Linked DNA regions of Homo sapiens: region 2 is reported to be linked to region 1. The links are microRNA targets in miRTarBase. Many come from high-throughput screens and were not tested one by one. Region 1 holds a microRNA gene; the other region holds the end of a gene's coding sequence.

Region 1 (3,081 bases):
GCGAGACTCCGTCTCAGAAATAAGACAAAAAAAAAAAAAAAAGACTTCCATAGGGATGTGGGGTGCAGTGGGATGAGGGGTCTTTCTTCTGTGGCTTCATGGATAGGAACCTTTGGGAGTATGTTTGGGGTGAGGCGTTGCCAGTAGGGGCTGACCCAGTGCTGCTCCCCACTTGCCTGCTGGGCAAAGCATCCTCCCTCATAGAGGGGTCCCCCCATAGGGGTGCTGCAGAGGGCCGAGGGGTCTTGGGCAGGACTGACTCCTCCTGTGTTCCCCCCACAGCCTGCTGGACCGGGTGTTGTGGAGGGCAGGGGCTTCTGGTGGGCACTGACCTGCAATCTCTGTCCCCAGGCTCTCGGCTGAGCAAAATCTATTCCCAGTCCACCCTGTCACTGTCCACTGTGGCCAACGAGGCCCACAATAACCTCGGGGTGAAGAGGCCCACGTCTCGGTGAGTTTAGCCCGCACAGGCGGGGTTCGTATGCCGGGTGGCTTCCCAGAGCCTGGGAGGTGTGTGGGCATCTGGGTGAACCTAGAGGGCGGTATGGCTCGAGTTTATGGATACGCCATGAAGAGATGGAGGGACGCGTGTGGGCACGTGTGCATGGGGCATAGTCTGTACCTGGCAGACAGGACTCAAGCATGTGCCTCAGTGCACTTGAGTGCCAGGTGTTCCTGTGGGAGGAGGACAGCACGGGGCACTGCATGGACTTGGGAGGGTGTGCAGTGTATACCGCCTCCTCTGCAGTGTGTGTGGCCCGCCTTTTTTTTTTTTTTTTTTTTTTTTGTTTTTTTGAGAGGGAGTCTTGCTGTGTCGCCCAGGCTGGAGTGCAGTGGCGCAATCTTGGCTCACGGCAACCTCCGCCCCCTGGGTGCAAGTGATTCTCGTGCCTCAGCCTCCTGAGTAGCTGGGGTTACCCGTGCCTGTAGAGACGGTGTTTCACCATGTTGGCCAGGCTGGCCTCGAACTCCCGACCTCAAGTGATCTGCCCGCTTTGGCCTCCCGAAGTGCTGGGATTACAGGCATGAGCCACGATGCCCAGCCGTGGCCCTTATTTTCCTTGGCCCCTCTGCACATAGGGAAGCTTCCCATCTCTGACCCCACCTCCATCCCATCCTGACCCCACCTCCATCCCATCCTTCTCCCACTGCAGGGCTCCCTCCCCGTCAGGTCTCATGTCCCCAAGCCGCCTGCCTGGAAGCCGCGAACGGGACTGGGAAAATGGCAGCAATGCCTCCTCCCCAGCGTCAGTGCCCGAGTACACAGGTAAGCAGGGGCTCTGGGTGATGTGAGGAGCAACAGGCACCCTCCTCCACAGCCCCTGCTCATTCCTGCTGCCCCCCACCCCCTCCCACTGCCTCACCCTCTAGGTCCACGGCTGTACAAAGAACCCAGCGCCAAGTCCAACAAGTTCATCATCCACAATGCCCTATCACACTGCTGCCTGGCGGGCAAGGTGAACGAACCGCAGAAGAATCGCATTCTGGAGGTGAGCCCGCCCACACGTGGGAGTTGGGGGCTGGTGGGTGGGTGGGTGGCCTGACTTGGCCAGCTGACCATTTCCAGCACTCCTGCCCAGGAAATTGAGAAAAGCAAGGCCAACCACTTCCTGATCCTCTTTCGCGACTCGAGCTGCCAGTTCCGGGCGCTCTACACGCTGTCGGGGGAGACAGAGGAGCTGTCGCGGCTGGCAGGGTATGGGCCCCGGACCGTCACGCCCGCCATGGTGGAAGGCATCTACAAGTACAACTCGGACCGCAAGCGCTTCACCCAGATCCCCGCCAAGACCATGTCCATGAGCGTCGATGCCTTCACCATCCAGGGACACCTCTGGCAGGGCAAGAAACCCACCACTCCCAAGAAGGGCGGCGGCACCCCCAAATAGCCCCACCCGGGCGGTCCACGGGCCGGGCCCTGTGTGCTGCGGCCGCCATCCCCTGGAGGACAGTCAGTCGGTATTCCTGGGTCCTGTCTGTCCCCAACCGTGTCTGGGTGGGGCTGGAGTCTCCACCCTCTGACTTTGAGTCCAGTCCTGCTGTGGGGGCTGAGCTGGGAGGTTCAGGGACTCAGGGCTCAGCTCAGTCCCCTTGTCTGTCCTCCCCCACTTCTTGAATAAAATAATTTAAAGAGAAGTTGAACCTTGTCCCCCCCTCCGAGGCTGGCCGGGGTCCCACACTCCCTGGCTGTGTTTTTAGTCTCCTGTTCTTTCTCAAACCAACTCCTGTCTTCAACCCCCATAATCCCCTAATGCAGCTTCAGCCAGGGCACTCCCAGCCCCCAGCCAGGGCTGTTTCGAAGCTGCCTCTGAACTGATCTCTCAGGCTCGAGGTGTCCCACTGGCCCTTCCTGTGGCCTTGGCCACCCCCGCTTGCTGGATTCTCCTGGTCTGTGTGGCTGTTGTTACTGGCCCTAACCAGCGTTTGGCATGGGGCCAACTTCTAACTTGATCTTGTCTCCCCTGGCCAGCCTGGTGTTTCCAGGCCTGGCATCTACCTCTGGGCCAGTGATTCCAGGTTTCTCTGAGATCTGTGTTTGACAATCCAGTTGCCCCCTGCCATTGCCTGGGTGTCTCTCTCAGATGCAAGGCCTGCCCTGCAACCCAGGCTGGCACTGGCTTCCCAGCTGCCGCCCAGTTCTACACAGCTCAGCCCTCCCCTCCTGTCTCACTCGCTTCTCTCCAGCCCTGTCACCTCCCTGCAAAGTCCAAGCCAATGGCCTGGGCCTCCCCATGTCCCCAGCTGCCTCCTGCCCACACAGCAGCCTGTGTGACCCGTTCGAAGCACAAATCTGATTATATCCCTTGATACTTAAAACCCCTTAATAGCCTACAGCCCGCTAATGGCTTCCCAGGCTTAGGACTAAGGACCACGCCCTGGTCCTGGGCCGTGCACAAGGTCTGGCGCCTGGCCCCCGTCCAGGCACAGAAACGCGTTACTAATCAGTTCCCAGAGCTGGGCCAGAGCCTGCCTGACTCCAAGACTTGAGGGCAAGGGCCAGTCCCTAGTGGGGAACAGACAGTGGGTGCCACCCCAGGGAGGCGGCAGCTGCCTGGGGCCACAGAAGGGCTCTGAGAGGCAGGG
Region 2 (3,081 bases), not on the chromosome of region 1:
TAAAAGAGCTGGATTCTTACCTCCTAATGTAATTCTAAAGTACCAAATTAGACATGGGTAGAAAAGCAATGTATCCTTTATGTGTATTTGTCTCCAAAATAAAACAGTAAAAACTTGAGACAGATTTAATATTTTGTCTCAAAAATTCACTAGCTGGTACCTGTGGTCACTTCATCTGAATCTACTTGAGGAAACAGAGGTCTGCGTATTTGGTGATGTCATGGGGGTATCCAGGCACTTGGTAATGTCACAGAGGGGATTTATGCATTTGGCGATGTCATACCTGGTGGTGGGGGGAGGTCTGTTCACTTGGTGATGACATAGAGTCGTTCGACCTAGGCAGAAGTTTTACATTCTGTCGTTCACTTTAAAACTATAATGGTCTGTAATGGACCCCAAAGCTCTATTTCTAATTTTGCCACCAGGGCCCACATCCCTGTACTTTAAAATGAGAAAGGGTTTAAGGATACCAAATGTTTTGGTAATTTAAAACTACCAAAAAAAAAAAAACATAGAAGGAATAAGACCTAGTATTTGATAGCACAACAGAGTGACTATAGCCAATATTAATTTAATTGTACATTTTAAAATAACTAAGAGTATCATTGGATTGTAACACAAAGGATAAATGCTGCAGGGAATAAATACCCCATTTTACATAATGTGATTATTACACATTGCATATCTGTATCAAAACATCTCATGTACCCCATAAATATATACCCCTACTATGTACCCATAAAAACTAAAATTAGGAATTAAAAAAAATCACTAGCTGCTACCTGCAGTCACTTGATCTGTGTGCTTGAGGAAAGAGAAGGAATTGGCTTGATGCTTCTTACCCAAAAAAAATTATTTGTGAACACCAATCCCTCCATCCATGTAAATGCATGAACATTAACTTAACAATTTTAGCTCTTACTGCTTTTCCACCTGCGCCTAGTGAGTAGTTAAAGATGTAATTTACAGGACTTTAGATCTTTCCCCTAAGAACTCTTTTTCTTTTTCTTTTCTGTACTTATCTTAATATCGTTAAGAGATGGCAGCCAAGGGTAAAACTGAGTCTTCTTGGGCTGACTATGATGAAAATGCCAAGTGTAATCTGAGCACAGCCCTGAACTTGGGCTGGTAGCCCTTCTGTCCACTTTATCTACTGGGAACTCTTGGGACACCCTGCAGAAGGAGCTCAGGCTGGAAGCAGAAACAACCCATCTGAGCTAAGAGAAAGAATTTAACCTTTTTAAAGGCAGCCTGTTATGCCTGACAGAATAAACTTACCTTTCCTCACTAAAACTGTCTATCCTTCACATTCCAGGAATCCCTTCTAAAAAACATATTCCATGCCCTTTTTCAAGAGAATCCAGCCAATCATTTCAGCTCAGACATCTCTCCCATGTAAATGCTGGAAGCTATCCTCCAAGCCTTTCCTTTTTCTATAGCACTTGCTGCTAAGGATAATTATATGGTTTCTCATCAACAGAATGTAAATTCTCCCAGTGCCCATGAATACATACTGGCCCAGAGGAAAACAGGTGAGAAATATGTCAAAAGAACTTGTAATACAAGCCTTCATATACATGGCAGGGGAAGGCCTGGTGCCTCCTTTTCTTACAAAATAGGAAAAATAGCACCTAAACCTGCAGGTTTGTTGAGGCTCACACTGTTTAGAATGGCATTGAACAAACATCTGGCACAGGAAATGCCCATTATAAGTCACCTGTTTCCATTTATGTCTCAATCTCAAATGTGGTGAGACGTGCCACAGCGATTAGTATGGCAGATTACAGGGGCTGATCCCCATCTTTTACTCACAACCCTGTAACTGTTTCTTCTTGATAAAGTAATGGTGATAGATAGGGACACTACACACAAACCATTCATGGATTCTCCCCTAAGTCTGTGCAATCGTCCGTATATGTATTAAATCTAAAAGCAAAAAAAAAAAAAACCAATCAAATAAAATGCTAAAGTGTATTAAAAGTTGTCATAATGCAAATTTTATTTTGATTAGTTTTTGTGACTCCTTTATCTTAAACCCAGCGATGCTTGCCACTTCCCAAGGTGTAAAAATGTGAAGATTAAGGTAAACTGAATGTCGAGGAGTGTAAAGAGATGGCAAAACACAGATAAAAACATCCAAAAAGCCTCTGGGGGCAGGTCAAGCTTATGATTCAACAGTTAGAAAACCAAAATTACTTGGACATCCCCTTCTACTTAAAGTGATATACTGGAATTGAAAATATTAACTGTTAGTTTTAGAAACTAAGATTACTTGAAGTAGGCTCATTCCAGAATGCTTTTCTTTTTTCCTTCCTGAAACAATTACATCAAACTTAGATATCCTAATGTTTATTTTTAGATATACTCCTTAAAGGCATTTATGTTCACCCTTTTCGAGGATGAGAAATTTACATTAACTAATAAACTTAACATTGATCTTAAGAACTGGTTTTTGATAAGACTAGTGTGACAGAGGTACTAGTAGAGCAAAAAAGCAGGATTCCAGATTTTATTTTTTAGAAGATTGAAAAAACACACCCAGGACAACATTTCTTTGATCAATAAACTTTCAGGAAATGGAGGAAGCTGTTTTGGGACACATTCAAAGCTAGTTAACTTGAACTTGGAAATAGGGTTTTGACAATCCAACTATGGGAAACAAATCTCTGAACAAATTTTAAATGAAACCTCACCCCCCCAAACTGTTCAAGTGGCAGACAAAATAAATTACCATAAATTATATGCCAACACACCTTTTAAAAAACAACAACAGCAACAACAAAAACCCAGGAGTCTGAGGATTTCCTTAGCTCCTCCAGGAAGTGTGTAACACTGCTTCTGGCCTGCAGGCTGGGGCGGATCAGGGACCTGTCACACGTCAGGATAGTTGCAGTAATATACCGCGGAGCTGGCGTCGGACACCACCGAGGAAATGGCCCCGTGGCTGTCGGGGAGATTCACACCGGAGTCATGCCCCTGGTAGGGGAGGCCCATCTCAGGCTTGCACACGAAGTGCAGATACTGTTCAAATTCCGTGCGGTCCACCTCCCCGAGGAGCTCGGCGGGCTGACTGGGGTCCGT

What was found. The annotated mature microRNA hsa-miR-6792-3p reads CUCCUCCACAGCCCCUGCUCAU and lies in region 1 at 1,309-1,330, shown strand. An mRNA with a match to its seed (bases 2 to 7 or 8) in the 3' UTR can be bound and repressed. Matches are read on the target gene's strand: a 7mer-m8 pairs with bases 2 to 8, a 7mer-A1 pairs with bases 2 to 7 and ends in A, and an 8mer does both.
Region 2: the mRNA of SOX17 is a reported target of hsa-miR-6792-3p. Seed matches in the 3' UTR shown: 7mer-m8 at 2,812-2,818.

What each region holds. Positions count from the first base shown.
Region 1 is chr19:7,616,172-7,619,252 of GRCh38, forward strand. MIR6792 (microRNA 6792) reads left to right here and starts at 1,268; the gene lies at 1,268-1,334. It overlaps CAMSAP3 (calmodulin regulated spectrin associated protein family member 3), which reads left to right. Exons shown (of 17, transcript NM_020902.2): 14 at 352-451; 15 at 1,155-1,267; 16 at 1,372-1,490; 17 at 1,581-2,133. The coding sequence ends at 1,886.
Region 2 is chr8:54,459,786-54,462,866 of GRCh38, reverse strand. It overlaps SOX17 (SRY-box transcription factor 17), which reads right to left. Exons shown (of 2, transcript NM_022454.4): 2 at 1,975-3,081. The coding sequence ends at 2,872. Among named protein-coding and RNA genes, the nearest start is that of SOX17, 3.4 kb to the right of the region's middle.